7 linked regions of the Homo sapiens genome follow. The protein of the gene in region 6 purifies or fractionates together with the protein of the main gene of each other region. This does not show direct contact. Each region holds a gene or a part of one and is shown on either strand. Other genes may lie near its edges.

Evidence for each region.
Region 1: the proteins of DCPS (region 6) and SMARCA2 purify together in Homo sapiens (affinity purification with mass spectrometry, with the first as the bait; one large-scale study listed by BioGRID). This does not show direct contact.
Region 2: the proteins of DCPS (region 6) and UTP15 purify together in Homo sapiens (affinity purification with mass spectrometry, with the first as the bait; one large-scale study listed by BioGRID). This does not show direct contact.
Region 3: the proteins of DCPS (region 6) and GNAI2 purify together in Homo sapiens (affinity purification with mass spectrometry, with the first as the bait; one large-scale study listed by BioGRID). This does not show direct contact.
Region 4: the proteins of DCPS (region 6) and RBM19 purify together in Homo sapiens (affinity purification with mass spectrometry, with the first as the bait; one large-scale study listed by BioGRID). This does not show direct contact.
Region 5: the proteins of DCPS (region 6) and IGF2BP3 purify together in Homo sapiens (affinity purification with mass spectrometry, with the first as the bait; one large-scale study listed by BioGRID). This does not show direct contact.
Region 7: the proteins of DCPS (region 6) and FLNB purify together in Homo sapiens (affinity purification with mass spectrometry; 2 studies listed by BioGRID, with this or other methods). This does not show direct contact.

What each region holds. Positions count from the first base shown.
Region 1 is NC_000009.12:2,053,158-2,057,236, reverse strand, and holds part of SMARCA2 (SWI/SNF-related matrix-associated actin-dependent regulator of chromatin subfamily A member 2), read right to left. Parts: intron 2,641-4,079; coding exon 2,514-2,640; intron 566-2,513; coding exon 392-565; intron 1-391. UniProt on the Homo sapiens protein: ATPase involved in transcriptional activation and repression of select genes by chromatin remodeling (alteration of DNA-nucleosome topology).
Region 2 is NC_000005.10:73,572,103-73,576,181, reverse strand, and holds part of UTP15 (U3 small nucleolar RNA-associated protein 15 homolog), read right to left. Parts: intron 3,694-4,079; coding exon 3,558-3,693; intron 1-3,557. UniProt on the Homo sapiens protein: Ribosome biogenesis factor. Involved in nucleolar processing of pre-18S ribosomal RNA. Required for optimal pre-ribosomal RNA transcription by RNA polymerase I.
Region 3 is NC_000003.12:50,238,919-50,242,997, reverse strand, and holds part of GNAI2 (guanine nucleotide-binding protein G(i) subunit alpha-2), read right to left. Parts: intron 1-4,079. UniProt on the Homo sapiens protein: Guanine nucleotide-binding proteins (G proteins) are involved as modulators or transducers in various transmembrane signaling systems.
Region 4 is NC_000012.12:113,945,655-113,949,733, reverse strand, and holds part of RBM19 (probable RNA-binding protein 19), read left to right. Parts: intron 1-697; coding exon 698-901; intron 902-2,269; coding exon 2,270-2,400; intron 2,401-3,258; coding exon 3,259-3,380; intron 3,381-3,809; coding exon 3,810-3,906; intron 3,907-4,079. UniProt on the Homo sapiens protein: Plays a role in embryo pre-implantation development.
Region 5 is NC_000007.14:23,316,779-23,320,857, forward strand, and holds part of IGF2BP3 (insulin-like growth factor 2 mRNA-binding protein 3), read right to left. Parts: intron 2,477-4,079; coding exon 2,360-2,476; intron 936-2,359; coding exon 861-935; intron 1-860. UniProt on the Homo sapiens protein: RNA-binding factor that may recruit target transcripts to cytoplasmic protein-RNA complexes (mRNPs). This transcript 'caging' into mRNPs allows mRNA transport and transient storage.
Region 6 is NC_000011.10:126,341,897-126,345,975, reverse strand, and holds part of DCPS (m7GpppX diphosphatase), read right to left. Parts: exon of another isoform or gene 3,654-4,079; intron 2,670-3,653; coding exon 2,559-2,669; intron 630-2,558; coding exon 363-629; 3' UTR 1-362. UniProt on the Homo sapiens protein: Decapping scavenger enzyme that catalyzes the cleavage of a residual cap structure following the degradation of mRNAs by the 3'->5' exosome-mediated mRNA decay pathway.
Region 7 is NC_000003.12:58,144,202-58,148,280, reverse strand, and holds part of FLNB (filamin-B), read right to left. Parts: intron 2,361-4,079; coding exon 2,232-2,360; intron 1,462-2,231; coding exon 1,288-1,461; intron 76-1,287; coding exon 1-75. UniProt on the Homo sapiens protein: Connects cell membrane constituents to the actin cytoskeleton. May promote orthogonal branching of actin filaments and links actin filaments to membrane glycoproteins. Anchors various transmembrane proteins to the actin cytoskeleton.

The sequences.
Region 1 (4,079 bases), on a different chromosome or scaffold from region 6:
AGAAGAAGACCCTCACCAGAGCCCAGCCATGCTAGTACCCTGATCTCAGGCTTCCAGCCTCCAGAACGGTGAAAAATAAACTTCTGTTGCTCATCAACCACCCAGTTTGTGCTATTTTTTTATAGCAGCCCAGACAAACTAAGACAATACTAAACCTCATTGTGCTGCTAAGCAATTGTATGACCTTGGGCAGTCATTTATACGTCCTGGCTTAAGCGTCTTTGTCTATAAAATGATGTGGTTGGATTATGTACATGTCAAGGAACCGTTCTGTTCTGTGATGTCCCCACCACCCACAAGGGTCCATTTTTCAGTCATTCTGACCCCATTTGATGAATTCATTGGACAGCTCTGCCAAAGTGAGGGTGAGCAAAGCCCAGGGTCTAAGAACCTGGTGTTTCTGACGGCGTTTCCTCTCCTGCTCAATCTTCTGCTGCTTCTCCAGCTTCTCGGTCATGCGAGCTTCTCTCAGAGTCTGGCGCTTGCTCCGTTTGTATGCTTTGGAGTTGAGAGCCGTCTCCAGGGTCGTGTCCCTGCGCATGCAGGCCACCACCTCCTGTCTCAGCTGTCAAGAAGAGAGCAGTTAGACAGCCTTCCCTAACAGAAGCTAGGTTCCTGAACTCTGGCCTTCTCGCGGTTGCATTTAATGGAATAGAGTGGGGCGGGGAATCTCCACAAGCTTCTCAATCACCTTTGGTTTGTATTAAATGAAGGAACTAAAATCATGCCAAATGTATGCAATATTTTCAAGAACGGTACAAGATTTTTCTCCCCAAATAATTCAAATCAAAAGCAATTATAGTACTGTAACAGTAAAAGAAAGAAAAGATGTTGTCTTGCCTTTTAAATAACTTCATTTTCTCTAATTATTCTAATGATACCAATTAGCTAAATAAGCTTTTTAAATTTTCCGCTTTGTTTTAAGTGTCATGTTAACATTCTCTTTGTGTTTAAAGATTAATTTTAATGATGCTCCAAAAAAAGAATAAAAGAATTACTTTCACGTGTGGTAGCAGCAGGTACTCAAACAACGTTAATTCATAGTCTCATACAAAGGATGGGAAATATGAGTTTTGGCTTCTTCCCACTCCAATAATGATCTTCTTTCCAAGAGATCTACATTTTATATTATATCATGAACTTATTTCAGATCACAAATGTAATACTTTTATCTGTATTGCATGTTATGTGGTGGTAGGGGGTAGGGACTGGAGAATACACATTAAATAATCATTCCACTGCATCTGAAATATCATTAGTTACAGTTAATTTAATTAGGAAGCTTCATAAATAACAGATTTTTAAAATAATATCAAACAAAAATCAGAAATCAATAAGAGTCCGTCATGGCAACGCTAATTTGAACATAAACATATTCCGGAAAATATACTTGGTTAATATTCATTTAGTAAGATTTTATCCAGCACTTTATTAATTCATCTTATGAGGTCACCAATAAGAAAGAAGTAAACAGAACTCAGAGAATTTTCCCTTTTCTTTTTAAAATTTAAGCTGAAATCTACTCTCACAAACCAAGAGCCAAGTAGCACCTACCCACCACTAATGTCCATCTGTGAGATTATAGCCGGTAAGGCAAATATACACCCAAATTCCTACCACAATAGCAACTGGAGTGGCCTGTGATTTTAGTCACATCCTCCAACAAACCAAGTCAATACTTCCAAACTACTTTGACTCATTAATTATTCATTTCGCATGTTCCAGACTTTAACAAAACAAACCCATCTGACTAACAATGAAACGTTCCTTATCCCCTTTGGGTTAGTGAGGCAATCTGCGGACTAGCAAACTTGAACCTTTTCAGTCCACAAGGCAAAACTCGCCAAAGTGAAAATTAGCTCTAACTCATTCCACTTGTCTCTTACTAATTTAGAAATCAGAAAATAGGTCATTATACTGGCTTTTAATAACTGCTGTAAACTACAAGAGCAGATAATTTACTGATTAGTCAATACATGAGCCTGATGTGATCAAACACTCCAAACTTAGACATCGGTGAATAAATAAGCTATAAGACATTGCTTTATGTATTTCTATAAATGATGAACCACTAATTCAGTAGCGTGGCTACCATATTTGTTAAAATTATTTTCACAGTCGTGGCAAGCACTTTACATCTGTGCTTACAAAGAAGCTCCAATCCACTACCTTCTGGTTTTTCCTTGGAGTCATAAAAGCAAACATGAGCTACCCCACTTGTTCCCAAGGTTTTTCATCCATGGTAACAAAACGCCATAACTCTGACTTTGTAACCCATAGTACAGGAGGAAAAACTCTTTCCCATATACAGAAGAGAAAACCAGAATAATAAGCAGTTCATCTTCATCATTTTTAGTTGTAAGCTGTTGGTCTAAAAGATTCACTATTTTACTATATTTATATCTTTATATCTTTGTAACAATATTGAATAGACTAAAGGCAACACAGATAACACTTTAGGAACAATTACATTTATTTCCTACATCTCAGATTCACTGGGGAAAATGTATTACCTGACGCTGGAAATTGAGTAACCGAAGTGCTTTTAGTTCCACGGTTGCTTTGGTTCTTAAATCTGGTGGCAAAGAGCCAGGCAGATTTTCCAGTTCTTGTATCCTATGAGCTATGCGGGCCTGAAGTCTAAAGGAAACAATAAAATGGGGAAAAGGGGGCAGGGGAAAAACACATTACAATTTAATCTTAAATGATAAACAATGACATTAGGTTTAAGTCCGGGGCAAAACATATTCCAGATACTGATAGTTGATCTCTAACACCCAACTAGAATTTTTGATGTTAAGCAGAGAAAAGCTACCTTTGCATTAATGCAGACAGGTATATGTTACTTAACAATGTGGCTTCCTCCATAACCTCTATCTAACACTAGGGAAAGAAGGTTCACCCTGCATCTAGTGGGGAAGTCAAATGTCCTTGCTCACTCTTAGCAGAGAGAGAATATAAGAGACAGAACCAATTGACAAGCTTTCTAACTCCCAGCCAGACAGAATGCAGAGCTGAGAGCACAGACTTTTTTCTTCCGAACTTCTAGTTCTGTCCTAAGGCAACCAGACCATTTGTCTTCTTTGCCAAGATGCTGATGACGACAGCCATTAAAGCGCAGTGAGCAAGAACAGTTTTAGGTGCTGATGCCACAGAAATCAGCCAACCCTAAACATTCAGAAAGCGCTCTGCCAGCCACAACCACTTCCTCTGTGAGCAGAGCTTGCTTGAGAAAAGAAAATACAAATGAGGCTGTTTTAAAAAAATCAGGGCCAGCAGTAAATAGTACTCAAAAACCAAGAGTTTCTAGAAAAGGATGTTGAGGATTCTCGTTTTACACACCATCAAAAATATAACTGCATGTACTTCTTCATAATAAAGGCAGAGTAGAAAATAAAAGACCTCTGACTTTAGCCATTCACTTGGGATACTATTACTGTTAGATATATAAACTGCTGGTTTTAGAGTTCACCTGAATCCTATTCTGACAAAATAATTATATGCCATTTAAGACTATTTTTAGAACTACATCCCCTAAATCTGAGGCAAACTGTACTGAACTAGATTTCAACAAAGAAAGAATAATAATAAGTAATAAGTTAAAGTAGGCTAATATTAACAGCACTAAGTGCCTTTAATGTACAATGTTATTTAATTGTCTCTCTCTTACACACACAGACACGCCTCTGTAAGGTAAAAGTTATAATGGTCCCATTTTGCTGATGAGGAAAACTGAAGACACCTGGAGATACCACAGAGCTAGTAAAGAAGGGGGCCAAGATTGGAACCTCAATTTGCCTGATACCAAAACCACTGCAATAAAATGATAGATAATTAAGATACACTTTCCGAGAACCTTCCTGGACCTCAACTATAAAAGCTGAAAATTAAGAATTCTGTTAAAAATTATGCACAGCCATAAAAAAGAACCAAATCATGTCCTTTGCAGCAACATGGATGCAGCTGGAGGCCATTATCCTAAGCAAATTAATGCCGGAACAGAAAACCAAATACCGCATGTTCTCACTTTTAAGTGGCAGCTAAACACTGGGTATTCATGGACATAAAGATGGCAACAA
Region 2 (4,079 bases), on a different chromosome or scaffold from region 6:
AGTGAGCCGAAATCGTGCCACTGCCCTCCAGCCTGGGCCACAGAGTAAGACTCTGTTTCAAAAATTTAAAAAGAAAAAAAGGAAAAAAAAAAAACAGAAGGACAGACCATGAGCCACTGTCATCTGAAGATCAAACTTGGGAGTAAAGAAAAGGTATTAGCCGGGTGCGGTGGCTCACACCTGTAGTAATCCCAGCACTTTTGGAGGCCGAGGTGGGCAGATCACCTGAGGTCGGGAGTTAAAGAGCAGCCTGACCAACATGGAGAAACCCTGTCTCTACTAAAAATACAAAATCAGCCGGGCATGGTGGCACATGCCTGTAATCTCGGCTACTTGGGAGCTGAAGCAGGAGAATCACATGAACCCAGGAGGCAGAAGGTGCGGTGAGCCGAGACCGCGCCATTGCACTCCAGCCTGGGCAACAAGAGTGAAACTCCATCTTAAAAAAAAAAAAAGAAAAAATTATCAATGAAAGCACATCACAAAGCCAAGTGTGATGGCTCACACCTGTAATCCCAGCACTCTGGGAGGCCAAGGACAGCAGATTGTTTGAGCCCAGGAGTTCAAGACCAGCCTGGGCAACTTGAAGAAACCCTGTCTCTAAAAAAATAAATTAAAAAAAAAAAAAGAAAGAAAGAAAGTACACATGAAGCCAAAGATCAGGGATTCTCAACCTCAGAATTACTGTCATTTTGGGGCACAGAATTCTTTTTTGTGGGGGTTGTTCTGTGCATTGTAGGATGTTTAGCAGCCTTCCTGGCCTCTATCCCCTATATGGTAAGTACCATGAGTTGTGATAAAAAACAATACTTTCTCAAGATATTGTCAAACGTTCCTTGAGGAACAAAAATCACTCTTGGTTGAAACCACCACAAATAGAGCCAATTTACACTTAGCTTTTAGGAACATACCTAAGAATCAAGTCCCAAATTGCCGAGTAACATGATTTCAGTAACATGTGTAAACTTGCCATGTATTTACATAAAAAATTCCTTTGTATTAAAAATATTTTCTAGCTTTTAAAATATGTACAGTCAATCCTTCTTATGGCAGGTTCCACATCTGCAGATTCAACCAACCATGGATTGAAAATATCCATAAATATATAAACAATACAGAATTTTAAAATACAGTGTAACAACTATTTACATAGCATTTGCATTGTATTAGGTATTACAAATAAGCAAGCCATGATTTAAAGTATACAGTGGATGTGTGTAGGTTATATGCAAATATGCCATTTTAAATAAGGGACTTGGGCATCCACAACCAATTCTCCTCAGTTACCAAGAGATGACTGTATACTTTTTAATTAACATGCTGAAAACTAAAGTTTTTCATAAGAGCAGAAAAAAATGAAAATATGGAAATAAAATAATAAAAAATAGATCATGTAAGCCGGGCACGGTGGCTCACGCCAGTAATCCAGCACTTTGGGAGGCTGAGGTGGGAGGATCTGTTGAACTCAGGAGTTTGAGACCAGCCTCGGCAACATGGCAAAACCCCATCTCAACAAAAATACAAAAATGAGTCAGGTACAGTGGCGCGTGCCGGTGGTCCCAGCTACTGAGGAAGCTGAGGCGAGGGGATCGCTCGAAGCCAGGAGGTGGAGGTTGCAGTCAGCCAAGATCATGCCACTGCCCTCCAGCCTGGGCGACAGAGCAAAACCCTGTCTCAAAAAAAAAAAAAATTAATAATAAATCATGTAAATTCTAGAACTGTGCCATACTTCTAGCTGCACATGGCTACTGACCACTTGAAATGTGGCTAGTGAAAATGAGAAACTAAATTTTTTATTTTATCTAATTTTAATTTAAAAACTGAGACAGTAATTTTTATAAAATATTATCTTTTTTTTTTTAGAGACAGGGTATCACTGTAACCCAGGATAGAGTACAGTGGTACTATCACAGCTCACTGCAACCTCAAACTCCGGCTTAAGTGCTTCTCCTGCCTCAGCCTCCCTAGTAGCTATGATTAAAGGTGTGTACCACTGTGGCCAGCTAATTTTTTTAATTTTTTGTAGAGATGGGGTCTCACTATATTCCCTAGGCTGGTCTCAAACTCCTGGCCTCAAGTGATCCTCCCACCTCAGCCTCCCAAAGCACTGGGATTACAGGTGTAAGCCACTGTACCAACCTAAAATATGATTATTGTATCATAGTGCACATGTTTAGATGCTTAATTTATTTCTAGTATCTTAATAATTTTGACATAGATTACATACTGAAATTATATTTTATATGTAATATATATTTTATTTTTACATTAGATATTAGGCTAAATAAAATGTGCTATCTAACTTTTAGGTCAGGCGTGGTGGCTCATGCCTGTAATCCCAGCACTTTGGGAGGCCAAGGTGAGTGGATCACCTGAAGTCAGAAGTTCCAGACCAGCCTGGCCATCACGGCGAAACTCTGTCTCTACTAAAAATACAAAAATTAGCCGGGCAAGGTGGCAAGCGCCTATAATCCCAGCCACTCAGGAAGCTGAGGCAGAATCGCTTGAACCCGGGAAGCAGAGGTTGCAGTGAGCTGAGATCCCACCACTGCACTCCAGCCTGGGCAACAGAGCGAGATGTCATCTCAAAAAAAAAAAAAAAATTAATTTATCTAATTTTTAAAAAACTTTTCAGGCCAGGCACAGTGGCTCACACCTGTAATCCCAGCACTTTGGGAGGGCGTGGTGGGCAGACCACACGAGGCCAGAAGTTCGAGACCAGTCTGGGCAATATGGCGAAACCCCGTCTCTACTAAAAATACAAAAATTAGCCAGGCATGGTGCTGCACACCTGTAATCCCAGCTACTTGGGAGGCTGGGTCACGAGAATCGCTTGAACCTGGGAGACAGAGGTTGCAGTAAGCCCAGATTGTGCCACTGCACACCAGCCTGGGCAACAGAACAAGACTCTGTCTCAAAAAAAAAAAAAAAAACTTCAAAATATATGAATGTACAATAATGATTTTAAAAGATGGTTTATAGAATAACATTATTTGAAAGATTATCATTCAAATGGTTCAATAATGTTGTTTAAGTATACAAGTTAAAACAAATTGTGTCAAAGGAGAAAATAAGTAGCTATGGGTGGCCGGGTGTGGTGGCTCACGCCTGTAATCCCAGCACTTTGGGAGGCTGAGGTGGGCGGATCACGAGGTCAGGAGTTCAAGACCTGCCTGACCAACATGGTGAAACTCCGTCTCTACTAAAAATAAAAAACTTAGCCGGGCATTGTGGCGCGTGCCTGTTATCCCAGCTACTCAGGAGGCTGAGGCAGGAGAACCACTTGAACCTGGGAGGCGGAGGTTGCAGCGAGCCGAGATTGCACCACTGCACTCCAGCCTAGGTGACAGAGTGAGACTCTGTCTCAAAAAAAAAGAAAAGAAAAGAAGTAGCTATATGTAAACAAAAGGTCAAAACTATTTTCAACTCAACAGGTTTTTTTCTCCTGGAAATCATTATCTGTATACTTATCACAAATATTGCTGAAATAACTCATTTCCTCAAGCAGTAAACAGGTGTACACTAATAATAATATACAAAAAAATTAAAATGCCAACCTATCCAGTGAGCCAGAGAGTAACCTCTGTCCAGAGCTGCTTAGACATAAACATGTCACGGTTTTGTGATGATTTTTCAAAGATACTAGCAATTGTCCTCCTTTTAACATGTCCCAGACTTTAACATAACGACCTCCTATAAAAAGAAATCATCGTTAGTTGGATATTCTGCCCACAGATTCAACATATTAAAGATCTGAAAAGCATTCTTCTCTGGACACTCCACAAAGCATGGAGGCTGAGTGAGGGAGTCCAGGCCAGGCTGCCTGGTAAAATCCTGGATGCACCACTTCCTGGGTCATTGGTAATAACAGTTCCTACCTCACAGAACTGTTATGACCATTAAATAATATTTGTGAAGTGTACATAAATTCCAGCAAAATAAATGTATAACTGAAAGAGTCCATTTTAAGAAAATTATAATAAAATCATTTTTTAAAAGAAATTCTATATAGCAGTGGAAGTGAATAATGTAGATCTGCAGCAAAATATCAAGCAAAAAAGTCTAATATGGAAAGACAG
Region 3 (4,079 bases), on a different chromosome or scaffold from region 6:
CCTCTGGTGTGGACACCACTTCCCCGAGAGGCCCAGCCCTGCCCTGCCATGTCGTGCAGACTTCATTACCTCCTCCTCCCGCCGGGGGCACACACAGTAGGTGCTGCCATCACCTCCTTTGCATATCCTGAGGCTGTCAGCAGCCTTGGAGCCCCCAGATTCCTCCAAGCCATAAGGATATCTTCTCCCCAACAAGGCTGAGATGACCCCACCTTTAGGCCTTTGCTCAGACTGGTGTGGTGCTGCCTTTCAAGCCTTGTAAATGTGCACAGAGGCCGGCACAGAAGAACCAGCCCAGCAAATGTTTGGTTATTCCAGAAAGATTCTTCCTCCCCAGCCACCAAGAGCAGCCACAGCCCCAAGAAGTAACATCAGGGTGAGGGTGGGGTTGGGGTTTAGTAAGAACGAGAGCTTCAAGCTAGAAGGGCTGGGTGGGGCTGGGCAGACGGGGTTCCACCCTGCACCTGTAGCTGAGGGAAGGGCTGCCTGAGAGCATCAGGTACCAGGGACACCATCAAAGGGCCCAATCCTTTGCCTTCCCCAAAGCACCTTGCAGAGCACTCTTAGGCAGGGTGTATCAGCAGTGGCCTGGCCAGAACCTGCTGACCCCTTCCCCTCCTCGCTCAACTCCTAGGCTGGGATTCCTGGCCTGAGATGCTGGGAAGATGAGACTACTCCCTGGCCTGTACCTTGCCCCCATCTGCCCGGTCCTGCCTCCCCCCACAGCACAACGGGATGTAGGGGAGGCAGCACTCAGGCTCTGGGGTGACAGTCTCCTCCTCTGCTGTGGGTGGGGTGGGGGGAGTCCCTGGTTCCTCAGTGGCTAAGAGCTTGGGTGGACAAAGCTTCCTCCATCCTGTTCCCGCCAAGTGAATGGGTGGCTTTTAGAGACAGACTGAGAGAGTCACAGCCAGGGACCAAGAACTAAGATCAACGGCAGAGTATACAGGACCTGTGTGTCTGCCTGTGGCCCAAGTAGCCCCAAGTGCACCTACTGCCCCACCCCCTGCAGTGCTGGAGGCCTAGGGACCTTGCTGGGACCTGACCACACCCCACCCTCAGCACTACCTGCTGCCACTTGCCAGGCAAACTGATGTTCAAGGGCCTGGGACATCAGTGATGGCACTCAGTGACCCTACCTCTCAGGCCACCCAGGGCCAACCGCTGACAAGCTGCCCAGGGCCAAAGGGGTCCCGGACCATCCCCAGGCCCCATCCAGCAGCCTAGGCTCTGACACATAGTGGGTGGTGTGATGCTGCCTCAGGGCTTCTGACATGGAAGCCTGTGTCCCGCAACTGGTTTGACTTCCACCTCCTGCCACAGCAGCGCGGCTCATTCTCTCTGTCCTCACACCTGCTCTGCCCTCTGTCTGGGGTTCCTCTCCCCAACCCGCCTGGGATGCCCCCAGCTGAGCTCCAGCTGCCCTGATTCACCTAGTCTCTCAGCTCAGAGGTATCCCTTAAAGGACCTAGTCTCACTCCTACCCTAGAGGTATGACCTCATGTTGGCTGCACTGACACTGGCGTGAGAGGCAGGGGCTGAGCCTAGCAGAACTGGGCAGGATGCAGGCAGAGGGGGTCAGCTATAGCTTGGACCCCTGTTCACTCCTTAGTGTGGGAGCTCTATCCCTGCCTGCTCCTGCAGACAAAGCCCCGACAAGCCTGGGGGAGGGGTGGGAAGAAGAGACTCAGAGGCCCAAGCCGCCCCGCCCCCCATTCAAGTGCTAATGAGCTCCAGCAGTGAAGGAGAGGGCTGGGGTAGAGTGTAGGGGCTGGAGGCCAGCCTGGGTGGGTACTGGCCCACCTGGCACCCAGGGCCCTACCACATCTCCAAACCTAGACCCCCAGAGGTTGGGCCTAAGGTCCCCAGGGCAGTCTGTCACTCCTGCTGGCACCAACTATCTGCACGCCTTGGGCTCCCCACTTGCTGTGAACAGCTGCCTGAGGGCAGGGGAGGGGGTTCCCTAGGGCTCCAAACCCAGGCCAGGCAGCCTCTAGGATGGGAGACTCCTTCCCACCAAACTCTCAGCAGTGGGTCCCTCATCCATTTTCTTTTTTTTTCTTTTTTTTTTTTTTTTTTGAGACAGAGTCTTGCTCTGTCCCCCAGGCTGGAGTGCAGTGGCACCATCTCGGTCCACTGTAACCTTCACTTCCCAGGTTCAAGCGATTCTCGTGCCTCAGCCTCCCGAATAGCTGGGATTACAGGCACATACCACCATACCTGGCTAATTTTTTTGTATTTTTAGTAGAGACGGGGTTTCACCATGTTGGCCAGGCTGGTCTTGAACTCCTGACCTCAGGTGATCTGCCTGCCTCAACCTCCCAAAGTGCTGGGATTATAGGTGTGAGCCACCGCGCCTGGCCTCCCTCACCCATTTTTCATACCTCCAAGCTTTGGTAGACTGTCCCCATAACCTGTGGCTGCAGGGAGGCACTCTGCCCCCAGGTTATGAGTGGAGAGCAGGACTCCTGCCAGGGCTTCACCTGATGCTGAGTCTCTCAGCCAGTGCCATAGGTGGAACTGGGATTCGAACTCAGGTCTGGATGACCCCATGGGCTGGTCCAGGGAGGGTGGCCCTTTCCCCACCAGGCCAGGAAACACCCACCCAAGCTCTTGGGAATACAGGCCAAGTCTTCCTGCTGCAGTGTTCTTGTCGAGTTGGTCCCTCTGACCCCCAGTGCCTGGCCCTGGCAAATGGTATTCATCCTTCACAGCTGCCCAGCAGACCCCCTCCTCCAGGAAGCCCCCCTTCACAGGCACCATTAGAGTCTAACTCACTACCCAGCCAGCCAGAATCCCAAGCTAACCCTTCCTATCTGTCTCTAGCTAGACCAGGCTCCAGTGGCTGCCCCAGGATTATACTTACTCCTCTCCCAGGAGCTCTGCCCTGTTCATGGACATGTTCAATCACTTCATTCTGTCCATATACCCTCATTAGGCATCTATAGTATGCCAGCCCTTTGCAAGAGACACAGACAGGACAGAGGCCACAAAACCCCCTTTCTTTTCTTTTGGTAAACTTCATTGAGCCCTTGCTATGTGCAGTCTCTGCACTGGCCAGTACCAGGACTCTCACAGCATTGCTCTGGTCTGAGCCCCAGGGCTGCGGAGCAGCCCCTGCTGGACCAGCCAGCTCAAGCTCGACTGTGGCTACTGCAGTGTCAGAGACAGCAGCCCTCTAGCAGTGCACCAACAGCCTGAGTTGGAAGGAAGAATACAAAGCCACTCTGCTCAGCAGGAGTTCCGCACAGGGTGGGATAAGAACTCTCTCAGGTGCCAGCATAGCCTGTGGCGGGGCTGGGAAGAAACAGCCTGAAGAACTTTTCTCAGTGTCCCCTCAATGCTGGTCACCAATCCTGTGGTGGGCCTGTGGGCCCTTGCCACCTGCCCACAGTATGCAAACTGCCGCTCAGTTTACTCCACCATCTACCCAAAATCAGGTTCAGAGGATACTTCCTTCATTCAACAAACAGATGAGAAGCACCCAGTAGATGCCAGGCTCCATGCTGGGCACAGAAATGAAGAGGACTTAGCCCTGCCCTGCAGTCTCCAGGCATCTGAGGGGGGAAGCAACAGCGCTGGGAGCCAGATGTTTCACCAGCCTTGGTCGAGGGAGGATGTCCAGGAAGGATCCTGGGAGGTGATCCCAGAGTAAAGTTTTAAAGAACAATCAAGTAGGGAACAACACACACAAAGTTCCAGGGGCAAGAGAGAACTGCTCTGTTTACATTCTGAAGCCTTTATGGAGCCAATGGTGGACACTGTCTCCTTTTTTTGTGAAGCTGTCCACACAGGCCCATCCCAAATCAGAGACTCTCCCCCCTCACATACACTCTGGCTTCCTTTCCCTTAAGAGCCCAGACCAGGGTCCCAGATTCCACCTGGGCCTAGCTGATCAGTCACGTTGAGCTGGGTAGGAGTGGGGAGCATCCCTAGAATAGGACTGGTATCTGCTCCCCCTACAAAGTTGCCAGGAAATACTCTCTTGCCTGTGTGTACCACATCAGCCTCTGCCCTGGTGACAAGGACTGTGCCTGCCTGCTGGCAGGGCTACCCAAGATGGGAGGGAGGCGGTGTGC
Region 4 (4,079 bases), on a different chromosome or scaffold from region 6:
TTGGGACACAAACCTACAGTTGTGTAGGCTCTGGCTCTACGGACAGGATGTTCAGTAGAGGGAACAGCACGTGCAAATTCCCTGGAGTTGGGAGGTCTTCTGAACAATACCCAGGGATGTATTCTTTGACCAATCCCTGGCCAAGACAAGTGATTTGAATCCAGCCATCAACCCCAGTGAAGACATGAGTTGTGTTAGAGAAGGATGGAGAGCCTTGGGAATCTTGTTAGCAAGTCAGGAGGTGGGTATTTATTGAGCACCTAGTAGTGCCTGTGCAGGATACAGTGATAATAGCACCCTAATCAGGCACAGGGGCTATGCGTGCAAATAAATCATCAGCAGGTAAGTACCCAGGGCTGGGCTGTCACCTAAGACCCTTCCCAAGGCAGAACAGCAAGCAGTGCCAGAGAATACAGCCCGGAGTTTAGAGAATGCATCACCGTGGTCTGGGATAACTCAGGCAGGCTCCCTCCAGGGCTGAAGCTGAACTGGCAGGGTGAGTGAGATTTGGGTTCAGGCCTGGTGTTGGCTTGGCTTATGCTGCCGCCTCAGGTGACAGGGCAGGTGTTGGGTGCTGTCATCTGCCACCTTGATTGTGTTTTTTGGAAGGCAGCAGAGAAGAGTTTGGAGTCACCAGCAAGGAGTTGCTGGCAAGTTCTAGGCCTCCCCCTGGAGCCCTGACTCCTCTTCATTGCAGGTGGGCGCTACATCGAGGTGTTCAGGGAAAAGAACGTCCCCACCACCAAGGGTGCACCAAAGAATACCACCAAATCCTGGCAAGGCCGGATACTCGGGGAGAACGAAGAGGAGGAGGACCTGGCCGAATCCGGAAGGCTCTTTGTACGGAACCTGCCCTACACCAGCACCGAGGAGGATCTGGAGAAGCTCTTCTCCAAATATGGTAGGGGTGTGGCCTCCGGGCCGTGGATAGCCCAGCGGCTATGGGAGCCGGGCTCTCACTCTGACGTCCTGGGTTCAAGTCCCAGTGTGCACACGACTCCACATCTCTTGCCTCAGTTTTCTCATCTGTAAAATGGGACCAAGTACCCCTGAGCTGCTGTGAGGATTCAGTGACATGATGAATGCAGGGATTCGCAGGGCAGGAAGTAAAAGGTATTAATAGCATCACTGGCATCCTTTGCTGTCTGAACTCTCTAACTTCTCCAAATTCAGAATTGAAGCAATTCGGATGACTTTTTTGAGATACTCCCTTGCTGTCCAAAGTCATGCCACTCGGTATTGGAATTGAGTAACTGTACAGGTTTCACCTGATGAATATACCTACACGGCGTTCCTCCGTATCTGAACTCTTAATTATGTAAAGTCTTCTTATCCAAGCTGAGCACCAAATAGATTTGATAGTGTCAAGGTTAGTGTTGTTGTTGCTGTTATTTCTCAGGCCATGGGCTTGAGGGCCTGTAGTCCAGCTTGGTCACAACAGGCTGTGTTTGTTTGTGGAGTTACCATTGTTGAAGGGCAGGAAGGGAGGGTTCAGGATGAGGGGAGGTCTTGATACCTTTGAGATCCCCGCAGTGTCTCCCCATGTCTATTCAGAGGCCAGCTGTAGGTTGTGGAGGATTGGAGATGTAGGTTGAACACCTGATGTGGGCCCCGTTGTCAGGGTAAGGATGCCCTGAGTGGAGCATGCCATCAGGAAAATTGACCTGACCTCCAAGCCTGGGGCCTGCCCCAGTGGAACTGTGTGTTCCATTCACCAGTCTGCTCACCATATCCTTCACACAGGCTGGCATCCCGGCTTACACCTCATGGGTGGGCTGAGGGGGAGAAGCATTTGTCGATATATTGCAAATGTCCATTTGGGAAGGAAAGACCCAGAGAGGGGACGCGGTCACACCCTGGCATTCAGAGTTGAAACCAATGCAGAAAGGGTGTGCTTTAATTTGAGCATGATGCTAATATCATCATGGAAGACACTTCTTTGGCACTAACTCTAGCAGGCACTGTTTAGTGCACTATGCACGCATGAACGCATTTAGCCCATGAGCTAGGTACTGTTGTGCTGTTTTACAGATGAAAAGACTGAGGCATGGGGAGGCTTAGTGATTTGCTCAAGGCAAGCTTCATGTGTAATAGGTGGTGGTGCTGGGCTCCAGCCCAGGTATTGTTGCTGTTAGGATAGACACACGTAGGGGACTGGGAAATGACACCCATGACCTGTGAGGTTGGCTCACAGCTGGTGCTCACCACATTCTTCCCTGGGGCCAAGTGGCTGCGGCCTACCAGAGACCGACACTTCTCCTGTCCTCAGGTCCCCTGTCTGAGCTCCACTACCCCATCGACAGCCTGACCAAGAAACCCAAGGGTTTTGCATTCATCACCTTCATGTTCCCTGAGCACGCTGTGAAGGCCTACTCGGAGGTGGACGGGCAGGTATTCCAGGTGAGGCCCCGTCCTGGGCTGGCCAGGAGGCTGTGGGGCTCACATGGTCGGGAAAGGCTGGTGTGTGTGTGTGTGTATGTGTGTGGACACGGGCGTCCACTTTGTGGGCCTAAGAAAATGTGCAATGGCATGCTAAGTCACTGCCTCACTCAAGCCACTGGAGAGTAAGAAGTCGTGTGAGGGCACGGTCTGATCTGTTCTGGTCACTGATCTGTGGCACCTACACCTCTGTCTGGCACTTAGCAGGCACTGAAAAAATACTCCTTGAATGGATGAATTTGCTCTCCATCTCTATAGATACCACCTTAGAAGAGGAGTAAGAAGAAAAGAATTTTGACAGGGACCTATTAAAATGGCCACAGTGGAATAAAAGAAACTTCTCTTTTCCCAGTGTTACCAAGTAATATACTTAGCATACATCCTCAAGCCCCAGGCTGCCTCATCATCACCCTTTTTCCTTTTCTCATTCATTCATTGATTTATTCATGATTTCTTGATCCCCTTGTTGCCATCAGGCCAGACCTGGCCCCACCGGCATGGACCTCACATTCTTACTCACTGGTGCAGGGACAGGATGCGATGCAGGCTTGAGAGGCGGGGAGAGGGCTGCGGGTGCGGGGTTATACACTGATCGAAGTTTTGTGTGTGTAGCTGTGTCAGGTGGCCCCCTCACGACATCAGGATCCTGTGTCAGGTGGGAAGAGAGTGGCCACGTTCTACCTGACCTCCCTCCCACCCTCTGGTCAGGGTTTCAGTGCTGGGTCCAGCTTACTCGTGGCAGAAGCCAACATCCTTCGGCAGGAAGCAGGGCTTACAGGCAAGGCTTCTGTTTACTCCCTTCCCGTCATTCCCATCCAGGGCAGGATGCTCCACGTGTTACCATCTACCATCAAGAAGGAAGCCAGCGAGGATGCCAGTGCCCTGGGATCGTCGTCCTACAAGAAGAAGAAGGAGGCCCAGGACAAAGCCAACAGTGCCAGGTCCTCAGTGCCCCTGAAACCACTGAGCTCCAACCCCAACCCTCTGCCACCCTCACCCTGCCCTTTCTAAGCCACCTGGGTCTTCTGACTCCTGATGGGTTTAGTTCATACCTTACCGAGCTTCAGTTTTCTCATCTGTAAAATGGGAGAATAATAGTAGTGCCTTACTTTTATGGTGCTGTAAGGTTTAAATGAGTGAATGTATGTGAAGTTCTTAGTCCCTGACACAGATGAAGCACTGTTAGGGATGGTTCCTGTCATCATCCGTCTTGTTGTCTTCAGGCCCTGTATACGTAGCCCATGATAGGGAAATTGGGGGCATGTAGATAGGCAGGCCTAGGAGCCCATTTCTTACAGGATTCGTGTCTGAGAACGAGTTCCCCTCATCCAGCTGCGGTCTGATCTCCCTGTTCTGCCTCTGCCTCTTAGCTCTCACAACTGGAACACACTATTCATGGGGCCGAATGCCGTGGCCGATGCCATCGCACAGAAGTACAACGCCACCAAGAGTCAAGTGTTTGACCACGTGAGTAAGGGCCGACCAGTCCTCTCTGGGATCTGGGCCAAACTGAAGGGGAGAAAGAGCAGGAGGCTCGTTGTACTGCTGTTGGCTGTGAGGCTGGGGCCGCCAGGGCTTTCCTCTTGGGCCTTCCCAGAGGCCTCTGGAATGGAAGGTGCTCTCCCAGCCCTCCCTTTGGA
Region 5 (4,079 bases), on a different chromosome or scaffold from region 6:
AATTTTGTGGGAGAAATCATACACTAAAAGGAATATATTTATGAATTTGGCATGGTCTTAGTCTGATTCATCCATAGTCTGTTGAATACCCCCAGCACGCTAATTTTGTGCTGCCCATGTGTTAGGCACTTTTCTAAACATTTCATATATTGTGTAAACCTTAAACTACCTTAGGATGTAGGTGCTCTTATCCCTGGTTTTACAGAAAAAGGTTAAGTAACTTGCCCAATGTCATACAAGGCAAATGGCAGAGCTAGGATTTGAACTAGCAGCCTGGCTGCCAAGTCTCAGCTCTACCATCTCTCAGTAGACATTGAAAGGCACACTGCAGCCCCAAAGACCTCAAATCCCACTAAACGTGCAATGGTTCATACCAGAACAAATGCTACAAGAGCTCCTGCCATTCCTATCTCTAAGATCCCAGGGATTAGAGAGATTTGTAGAGTCTATGGGCAGGGTCTAACAGAGATAATCCAAGGGTAAGGAAAAAGGGGGCATTTTAATTCAAGTCTAGGCAATCTCAGGGACAGGAGGGAAAACATCTGAAAACAAGTTTCCAAGGCATATTAACCTGGCAGGTTTGTAAATTTTAAGGTCTCACCTTAGCATAGGATTACAAACCATTAAGCAAAATTAACCTTTGAGAGACAGGTAAATCCAGCAACCAGTACAGAACTCTTAAAATTAAAGACTTTTGGTTAATTTCGAAATATAATTTTGAGTGTGATTCTACTCAGCTCTTAGATAAGAATTTCCATTGACTCTTTCTGAGATTTAGACATATTTAAGGGAGACGCCAGGTTATGGACTACCTGTGCATTTGTTACCTGTGGACATAGCACATACTCTAGAGCACATACCTTGAACTGAGCCTCTGGTGGTCCAGTGATAATCACCATCCTCACTTTAGCATCTGGTGCTTCCGCTGGAGCAATCTGTAACAGACCCAACAACAAGTTATGATACTTTCAGGTATCACTGATAGGCATCTTGGGCCAACCAGCCTAACATTTGCATGTGACTGGCTGAAATGCAGAATTAAAGCCTTCGTGAAGGAAATTAGGGAGAGGCAGCAATTCCTGTGGGTTCACAATTTAGGCCTCCCTCCTGCATATACTATATGCTTATTCTGTGCCGGGCCCTAATGGAGACCTCCACGTGCTGTCTCTCAGCTAATCCTCACCACGTCCTGATGAAGTAGTATTACCTCCACTTCACAAATGCGGAAATGGAAGGCTGGAGAAATTGAGTTATCTGGACCATGATCACACAGCTAACAGAGCTAGAGGGAGAGCTGGGTCTGTCTCCATTGCCTGTGTTCACTACACCAGTGGTGCTCAAAGTATGGTCCTTGGCCCACTTGCATCAGGGCTCCTTGGGCTTCCTGTGTATGCAACACACTCTAGGAATCTCTGTACCCTAAGTTTCAAGGATACTGCACACCACATGCCTTTGTTTGTCTGAGGCAGGGTCTTACTGTGTGGCCTAGGCTGGAGTGCAGTGGTGTGATCATAGCTCACTGCAGCCTCAACCACCCAAGCTCAAGTGTTCCTCCCACCTCAGCCTCCCAAGCAGCTGGGACTACAGGTGTGTGCCACCATGCCTGGCTAATTACACTTTTTTTTTTGTAGAGATGGGGTCTCACCATGTTGCACAGTCTGGTCTTCAGCTCCTGGGGTCAAGCAATTTGCCTGCTTTGGCCTCCCAAAGTGCTGGGATTACAGGTGTGAGCCACCGCACCTGGCCAACCTTTATTTTCCTTAAATAAGGCATCAAAATACAGAATCTTCAGAACACACAGTTATCTATTACGGCAGACACCATTATTTGTCCTCTGGTATGTTACCTTCTGTAGTTACAAAATGTTTAGCTGACTGTGCATAGCCTGTATTTTGCCCCTTCAACTTCGTCTGGCCAAGTTCTGGGCAATGGAAATATAGGTAGAAATATCCCACAGTAGCTAACAAGAAACCTCCCTAGAAGAAAAGCTCTTTATTATGTTCTCCTCTCCTACTGGCTGGGCAACAGACCTGATTCCTGGAGCACTGAATGGTGTCAATCTGGAACCAAGAGGGACCAAGGCCGTACCTGGGGAAGGTGGCTTGGAAGGAACTTAGGTCCAAGGACTTGGTGGGGGCAGAGCCAACACCCAGCCCGGATGTTCACCTCCTAACTGTGTTTTCTGCACAGAGAAGTTAGCCTCCTTGGTGTAAGCCACTGTTGTTTGGGGGTTTCTTCATATCCTTATGTAACCCTAACAGTGTCTTTTACATTCTATTCAAATTATAAAGTGGCAAGAAGATTCATATTTCTGTAACTTACTTAAAGAACCAGAGAACCACAGCTGGTAGAACAGTACCTTAATTGAAGCTCCAGCAAAGCGAGAAAGCTGCTTGATGTGCTGGCCCTGCTTGCCGATGATGGCACCGACTGATAGAGCTGGGATAAACAGATGAACAGTCTCCGTTTCTGATTGCTGTTAGAAAAGAAAGCCAGGACACCCATGTTTATTTGCTACAAATCAGGCTTTTGTTAACATTAGCTTTAGGAAGGACACCTTCTCATGCAGTAGGAATACCAGGAAAGTTTAAGGAAAAGCTACCATAAGAAGTTGACCAGACCTTACCTAATAGGTCAAGAAGATCTCATACAGTCATCCTGAAAACAGTGGTATTTAAAATTTCACTTTTCTCTACTGTTGCCTTAAACTTTAAAATGTCACTGAGTTATGGATTTAAAAGATATGTAGATGTTGTAAAGTTTAATCATATTAGAATAGCGGGACATGCTTGCATTAAAAATTAAGTAAGAGCCCCCTACCACTCTCAAGGTAGATTCTTAACAAGTAAATGAAATTCTGGGCTACATATCAAACACAACAGAACTCAAGGACGCCAGCTCCACACCTTATCTATGTAGGTTTCACTCCTTAAACACATACACAGTGAAGTGTTTAAGAGAAAAGCTGAATTTTGTTACATATGACTAAATTGTATGAAACCTTACCACTGTCATTCAATAGTTATCACATCCAAGCACAGGACAGGATTAGGAGAGAGCTAATTCACTTTAGTGGTAAGATGCCCTAAGATGCTTTCCCACAGAATTCCTTATTCCTTCCATCTGTGCCTTCCCTTTGCTTTTTTTTTGAGATGGAATCTCACTCTTGTTGCCCAGACTAGAGTGCAATGGCACGATCTCGGCTCACTGCAACCTCCACCTCCCGGATTCAAGCTACTCTCCTGCCTCAGCTTCCCAAGGAGCTGAGATTACAGGCACTTGTCACCACACCCGGCTAATTTTTTTTTTTTTTTGTAGAGATAGGGTTTCACCATGTTGGCCAGGCTGGTCTTGAACTCCTGACCTCAAATGATCCACCCGCCTTGGCCTCCCAAAGTGCTGGGATTACAGGCGTGAGCCACTGCGCCCAGCCCCCTTTGCATTTTATACATGAAAAAATTAGAAAATATTTTGTAGGCTAACTCCTGAAAGGTCATTCATAAATAGATTTTATCTATGTACCTCATTCCTTCACTACTTCCCACTTCAAGCCAGTTGTGCCCTTCCTGGGTCTCTTTTCAAATAGTCCTTGCAGGGATAAAGGACACATTTGCTCAAGAGTTCACAGTGACTGGGCTCCTAAAAAGGCCAATTCAAGGTTCAAGGTTCAGTAATGCTACCAGTCAACTAACAGTTCTAAAGTACAGAAGCAGTGCACATAATTTATGCATTTTCCACTTTGTTTACCTTCTAACAATATAGTGAGAAAAACACTTCCAAGGATAAGCTAGTTCCAAGACACATATTACAAGAAATAGTTATTGAAATGAGCCACAACTGAAGAAGCCAGTAATATGCTTTTGTTTAAAAAAAAAAAAAAAAAAAAAAGCCAGGCACAGTAGTTCATGCCTGTAATCCCAGCACTTTGGGAGGCCAAGGTGGGTGGACTGCTTGAGCCCAGGAGTTTGAGACCAGCCTGGGCAACATGGCAAAACCCCATCTCTTCAAAAATTACAAAAATTAGCCAGGCATGGTAGCGCTTGCCTGTGGTCCCAGATACTCAGGGGAGGCTGAGATGG
Region 6 (4,079 bases):
GTTGTACAAACAGGAGAGGCACAGAGTGGGGAGAAGGAAGCCACCACGGACGGTGAGCCCTGGGGCTTGGAGAAGGCCCTCGGCACCCTTCCAGGGCAGCTCCCACCTGTCAGTTGAAACCACCACCTGGAGACTTTCCACCATTCTCAAGGCCTTCCCACAGGTTCTACCCACCCACTGTCCCCCACCATCTGTCTGCCTCCCAGGCCACGCTGTCCACACTGAGTGAGCCCGCTAGTTTATTCAATACTAGGAATAAGCCGGTATAAAATACATTTTTAGAAAATTCACTTGGAGATAAAAAATCTTGTCCCCACTCCTCCCCCAATCCCACACATCTGTGCTCTTCTGCCTGAGTTAATTCAGCTTTGCTGAGCCTCCTGCAAGAGCTTGAGCAGGGGGTCGTCAGCCCTGAGGGCGAAGGTGAGCGTGCGCTGCTGGTAGTGCCTAGGGTCACACTCCAAGTTCTCGATCACCTCAGCCAGCAGGTGGGCCCGCTCCACGCCTGAGCCGGGGGCCTCGAAGCCCAGGGCGGTGAAGTGCACATGCAGGTGGTAGTAGGAGGGCAGGTAGTGCAGGTATACTCGCAGATGGTCTCCCTTCATCCGGTAGCGCTGCAGGATGGCCTCCTGATGAGACAGGGGCAGGCAGGTCAGGAGTCACCGTGCTGCCTGAGGCCCGGCGCCATGTCCCCACCTAGACCCTCCTCCCATCTGAATCCTGGATTGGCCTGGGACAGCTCACAAAAACCCTCCAAACAGCTCTCTACCTGCTGTCTGCTTCAGCTTCCTCTGTCTTCTAGTCTAGGAAATCCACAAGTGCAGGTGACAGCAGCAAAGCTGAGACTCTCCCAAAAGAAGTGGGGAGCGGCCTCAATCAGCATTCCCCACCCCAACGTGGAAAAAACACTGGCTTCCTCAAACAGTTGCTGCTGGGAATCTTGGAAGGCCCAGTGTCTACAGACAGGCCCCAGATTCCCAAGACTATGGGGACTTTCATGATTTAGAAGCATTTCATCAGTCATGAAGTGGATGGGAGGAAGCCTCATTCTCTCTTTTAGCATAGCACAGGGTGGAGCTTGGAAACAATGAAGTTGGGGATGGGGCTATGCTGAGAACTTGGTGAAAGAGCAGGGACTGTGGAAGGGGTATGGGAGGGGCTGCTCCCACACAGACCTGGCGAAGTCTCAGCGGGCTCCTTGCAGAAGAGGAAAGCATTGACTTTGGCCCTGGCTCCCTTTGCCCACCTCCACCTTGCTCAGGGGTGGGTCTTTTTCTACCAACCTCCACCTTCAGGAGGCTGTGAGGCATAGAATTAAGCGGAGACTCTCATCTCCATTGTGGGCAAATCCCTGAGGTGGTCAGAGGTGAAGAGAAAAGTACTAGGGCCTCAGTGGGCTCAGTATATACCCCAGAACTGTGTTCTGCATTTGGAGCTCACCCCAGGAATCCCTGCAGCGGGGCGAGACCAGGGCCAAGGCACCCGAGGGGCTTCCTGGAGTAAGTGAGGTCTGTCTGCCAGGGTGGAGCTGTCTGAGCTGCTAGGGCAGGTCAAAGTGTTGGCCTGGCATCTCCCCAAGAGAAAGACACCATTCTTTGCCATTTGTAATATCCAGAGACTGCTTCAGGATCTGAACAAGTCACCCCACAAAGATAAAGGCAGCCAAGGGGTGGTGCCGTGGGTGAGCAGGAGGGAAGATAGATCGGGGCCCAGCAGCAGGGGAAGCTGGGTATGGGCAGAGCCTTGCCTCCAGGTCTGCATTAACACCTCGAAGCATCACTGGTCAAAAAGGGGCAAACCTCTCTCCTGGCTGGGCATCGTTGTGACTGCTAGCTCTGGCGTGTTAGGCAGAGCATCACATTTCAGAGTGGAAAAAAGACTCAGACCCAGCCCCTTAGGATGGTGGATTTAGAAGGGATCCATCTAGATAATGTGGTTTAGGGAGGTGAAGTGACCTGCCCCAGGCCACTCAGCTGGTTAGGGTCCAAATGTCAGGCCAGGACCACACCCAAGATTCTAGACACTCTTCCCCCATCTCCCCGTGCTCCTGGGCTCTGTTTAGAGCCCCGATAATTTCATTCAATTCAACAAATATCCCAGAGAGAAAGTATCCCAGAACACCAGGTGCTACAGAATTCAGCCTGTCTTCAATCTAGACAAGGAGACACACGTGTACACACATATCGAAGTCATGTGCCCATACTCCCAAGAAACTCTGGCATGATGTGGTTGTCATGGTTGTCATGAGAGAGACAGGTGATCCTGGAGTAGGAGGGGCCAGGACTTAAGGACCAGAGTCTATGGGGTGAGGGGTGGAAGTGCATCCCAGATGGAGAAAGGCCGAGGAAGGCGTGTGAGGGTGAGGAAAGGTGGCAGGACCAGGGACAAAGAGCCCTGCTCTTCAACCTCAAGAGCCTAATGGGGTCCCCAAGACTGGCATCCAGAGAGAAGTCTCTCCAAGATGGACTCTGGGAAAGGTGAGGAAAGGGGCCCAGGAACACACTGGAATCTGAGTCTAATTTCTCTGAGCTTCCACGTGGTTTGGTGAAGCCACTCACCTGCCCCTGGTGGAGGATGTTCCTGAGCAGCGGCAAGTGCTCCGGAGTAAGGTCGCGTAGGGATCTGATGCCCCGGCGATGGCAGATGGCGATCAAGTACAAGTCATCGAGCTGCGTAGAGAGCAAGGGGAGACCAGGCTCAGCAGGGAACAGACCTGGGGAGGCTGCCAACCCTGGAGTTCTCACGTAAGCCAGGAAGCACCCACCCCTGAGGCCTACAGCACCAGGAGAAACCCCGCAGGGCATCTGCATACCCCGGGCGTGTGGGATGGTCTTAAGGAGCAGGCCTACTGTGTACGCTTCTTGCTAGAGAATACCATGTGAGAGTCCTTTTTTTTTTTTTTTTTTTTGACAGAGTCTCGCTCTGTCGCCCAGGCTGGAGTGCAGTGGCGCAATCTTGGCTCACTGCAACCTCCGCCTCCTGGGTTCAAGCGATTCTTCTGCCTCAGCCTCCCAAGTAGCTGGGACTACAGGTGCGTGCCACCATGCTCTTTATATTTTTAGTAGAGATGGGGTTTCACCATATTGGCCAGGCTGGTCTCAAACTCCTGACTTCATGATCCGCCTGCCTCGGCCTCCCAAAGTGCTGGGATTACAGGCGTGAGCCACCGCGCCCAGCAGAGAGTTCTATATGCTCACTCCCCAGAGCTGTCGGGGCAGGGAGCCAGGAGGTTCAAGAAAGAGCAAGGGCAACTCTCTCCCTCCGAGAGTTTACAGTCTTATCGCATGTATGCAAGTAGCTCTACTGTAAGACACAAAATAATCCCAGTGCAGGAGGAAGGAAAGACTCTAGCTACCTGGATGAACCCAGGAAGGCCTCCTGGAAGAGAAGGCAGAGGATCAGGTCTAGAAAAAAGGTAGAATTTGGAGAAAGGGTATTCAGGTAGAGGAAACAGAGCAAAGACTCGGAGGCAAGAATGTATAGGGCATAGAATGTATACGGAAGGGGAGAGGAAGCAACTTGATTTGTTTGGAGTCAAGGCCCATGAAGGGGTGGAGTGGGGTCTGAAGGCTGAGAAGGGAGCCAAGGGCCAGCTCAGCAGCACACACAACACCAGGGCAGTTAGCTTGTTTCTCTCTTCCCCTATCGCACAGGATACCTTCCTGCTGTCCTTCCTGAGCACAACCTGGCTGAAAACCTGGAGGTCACAACAGTACAAAGAATCAAAGTCAAGATCTTGTGCCAGAGAGCAAATGAACTCTTCCTCTTGCTGAGAAAACCCACCCTGCTCACCTAAACCCTGGCCTTGCCTGGTAATTCCATCCATGCGCCTGGAAGGCCCCAGACATCAAGGCTCTGAGGGGCCAGGCACGGGGAGAACCCAGCAGTGCCCTGCCCTGCAGTCTGAGCTACCAGATTCCTTGTGAAGATAATTTGAGGACCATGACTCACCCAACCACATTTCCTGGGGCCTCAAATTGAAAATTCAGGATGGGCTTTTCTATATGACTGGCTGATATCCAACTATGCCATGGTCTTTACATGCCATGAACATTCTTTCCTGCCAGAGTTCTAAGAAT
Region 7 (4,079 bases), on a different chromosome or scaffold from region 6:
GGTCAGTCTCACTGATGTCGAGCAGGAAGTCAGCGGCTGAGCCCAACTTCACCTGGGAGCACCGCCTGCTGTCATCTGGGAAACATCCCCCAAAAAGGACTCCCGTTACATGTGGTTACCCTGGCTTCACAGAGCTGCCATGCCATATGCTGTTCACGGATGAACACGCAAGAACTAATTACACAAAGTTAAGTGAAAAAAAAATGAGCCTTGAACACTGAGTAGACCCAACCAATGAAGAATGATGGGATTCATGCCTGCTTGCAGCAAAGACAAGAAGCTGGCAGGACCTAGAGACTTGAGTCCTCATGGACCACATTTTAAAGGAATCTTTGGGCCAGGTGCCTAATCCCAACACTTTGAGAGGCTGAGGCAGACGAATCACTTGAGGTCAGGAGTTCAAGACCAGCCTGTCCAACATGGTGAAACTTCATCTCTATTAAAAATACAAAAATAAGCTGGGTGTGGTGGTGGGTGCTGTAATCCCAGCTATTCAGGAGGCTGAGGCAGGAGAATCGCTTGAACCCAGGAGGTAGAGGTCACAGTGAGCCGAGATCATGCCACTAAAACTCCAGCCTGGGTGATAGAGTGAGACTCTGTCTCAAAAATAAAATAAAATATAGGAATTTTTGTTAGTTGAAGGCACCTCATACCTGCCTGGCATGGCTGTGGGCATTTCTAGGTAAACAATGACCACATTCCACACAGTACTACTGGCTGCTTCACAGACAGGTCTAAATACGGTGGGGAAACAGGATCTGCCTTGTGCATCTTCCTTATAACCCACTGAAAGCATAACCTGAACACAGCAAGGTGAGGAGCATGGGCTTTGGAATTTGATAACCTGGATCTGTTTACCTATATGTGAACTTGGCTACACCACTACCTTGCCAAGCCTCAGTTTTCCCATCTGTAAAAGGGATAGCAGAAAATTTACCTAGTAGTGACGCTGAAGGGCATGTCTAAGCTCATGCACTTCATGCACTATTGCAGTAAGTATGATTCGAACACTCCATCTGAGAGCTTTCTCTTTGCACCCTAGAGTCACACTGGCACAATAAAAGTGTGCTCCAAATACTAGCTCTCGCATTTTCCTGGATTATCAGCAAGAGAAGGATTTAGCTAATCCAAAATTGCATTCCATCCCCTGCTCCTCCTCAACAAGTCTCTGTGAAACCTAAACTCAAAGAGACGTCTAGCCTGCTGCCAGGGGTCTGATAAGGAGGGTGGCAGTCAGAGGCAGCCATACTTCCCACGAGGAAGACCCCAGAAGCCAGACAACCCTACCTGTGATCTTGGCTGTGAAGGGGCTGCCAGGGATGTGCTTGTCATTGTACTTGACCAGAATGCTGTAGTCGCCTGGCAGAGTCGGCAGGTAGGTCACTGTGCATGTCCCATCTTTATTGTCAATGCAGCTGATTTCTGCTTTTGAGGGGCCCTCAATAGCCAAGTCCAGACCACCTACAAGTGGGAACAGGGATGCAGGGGTGTTAGGGAGAGAGTTGCCTTGTTTTAAGAGTTTCCTTTTAACAACTCATCCAGGGCAGCCCTGATGCTGGGGACAATGGATTGACGCACTCCACGTGAGCTGTGGGCAAAGGGACATCTGTCAGAATGAAGCAGTCCACGCAGTAAAAACACCCACTGAGAAGAAACCCCAAACATCTGAGTTCTTCACTGCAAGTAACCCTGGAGCTCTCTCTACTCTCAGGATGCATGGGATGAGAAAAGGAAGGAGCCGTGTACATCAATTACACATAGGAGACGGTGGGTGGTGGAGGGCAGAGGTGGATTGTCCCTGCCCATCAGGCACTGGCTGCCATCACGGAAATCCCATTAGAACCACAGATTTGGGATTATCCATGAATACCACGGGAATGGGCACACAGCTTTATCAAAAAGAGCCACTCAGTAAGTCATGTGGTCTTGTGGATACATGTGCAACAAGAACAAAAACATCACCAACCAAAACACACTTAAATTCCAGACAAGTCACATAAAGTATTTCATAGCATGAATCTGATTTCAGTTAGAACACAAAGGACTTCAAAAATGTCTGTCTGGGTAGAAGACGAAGCGGCTCTAAAGAAGAAACAGATTTACACGAGAGAAAAGACAAGACAAATACTACCATTCGATTGTCTCACTTTTAAAAGCCACCCTGGAACCGTGTCCACTTCACCCTCCAAATGGACAGCTGGAGGCGTATAAACACGTAAACCACACAGTACCTTCTCCTGCATCCTCTGTGACGATGGTGAAGGTGGCAGTTTTGTTGGCCACTCCATACACGAGGCCTGGACCGTATGCAGAAACACTTCCACTGTTGGGGTAGTTCACGTAGAACTGGAGTGGGCTCTCTGGGTTTACGAAGGACACAAACAAAATTGGTGCTCATTAAGGGGTGAACGAAGACCCTGGACAACTGGCATCTTGACGTCCACCTCTCTACAGGTCTGGCGCCTCCTAAGCAGAGGCATGAAGAGACAGAAGGAGATGCACATGCACCTCCCATCCCCCGCCATCCTAGGACATCAGAGAGGGTCTACGCAGTATTATTCCTTCAATCACAACATAAGAAAAACAATCCTGGAAGCTGCTCCAGATGAGGAAGGGGGCTAAGGTAAGGTACCAGCCCAACCTGACAAATAAGGAAGAAACTTTTGCACTGGGTGGTGAAAGGACCCATGGCCAGAGGGAAGGTAAGTGGAAAGGGCTTTTGGAAGGCCATTTGCCCATGCCATTCAACCTGTAAGGAATCAACCCCACAGTGGTCTTCTCTGCCCACCCCGACTCCTAGCCCTATGTAAGCACTTTCATTTCTGCAGTGTTCGGGTGCACATCAGGAAAAGACCTAAGTGTTCACAACAGGGGACCGGTTAAATAAATGCTGATCTACTCATGGGCCATTAAAAAGAGTGAGGAAGACCCATGTTTACTGACTTGAGAAATTATCCATAATATGATGCATTAAAAAGAAAAAAAGCAAGTTGCTATAAACTATGAATACCATTATGCTATTCCTTTAAAAACAAAATAGAATAAAATTATATGTATGTTTGTAGATACAGAGAGAAACATCTGAAAAGATACACAACTCACACCAGCAGTGGAAGTGGATGGCAGATGTGAGAAAGACATTTTTTCCTCTCTCTCCATCTGCCGCTTTAGAATATTTAAATAGAAGCAGATAATACATTTTTGCTTTAAACCAATATTACATACAGACAACTAAAGTAAATGCCAATCTCAGAGAAACATTTGCAACTCCTACCACAAAGGGCTAATCTCTCCAATGTTTACATTGCTCTTAGAAACTATATGACAAAGGCCAATAACCAAATAGAAAAACAGGCCGTGGATCCAAATGTTCAGTTCACAGAAAAAGAAATACAAATAGACATAGGGAAAGTTGTGTGGTCTCATTCACAAGAGAAATACAAATAAAGCAACGCTGAGATTCTGTTTCTTTCCAACCATCAGACTGGCAAAGCTCCAAAAATTTGATACCATATTCTACTGGCAAATTTTGTGGAAAAGAAGGTGCTCTTCTCCATGGCCAGAGGGCGTGTGAACTGCAACAGCCCCTCTGAAGGGCAATTTGGCAAGATCTGTCAAAATCATAGATGCCTGCACTGGGGCCCTAGCATTGCCTCCTCTGGTAACTAAATCTCACAGATACATCTTTGTGAGTGTGAGGTGACTAGGGGAAAAGTCGATTTGCGCAGCAACACTGGGGACAGCGAGGGCAGGAAGAACCAAAATGCCCTCCAATAGGGAAATGGTCAAATATGTAATGGTTCGTCCACATGAGGGAAGGCTGGGAAGACACTCTCTTATATATCTGTATTTCCGTTTGCATGGAGAGTCTTAAAAATACTCTGAAATTGGCCAGGCGTGGCGGCTCATGCCTGTTATCCCAACACTTTAGGAGACAAAGGCGGGAGGTCTGCTTGAGGACAGGAGTTTGAGACCAATCTGTGCAACACAGTGAGACCCTATCTCCACAAAAAAATAAAAAATAAAACCCTGAAACTCTGAAATCGAACATAAAAAAATTTATGATAGTCTAGTTCAAG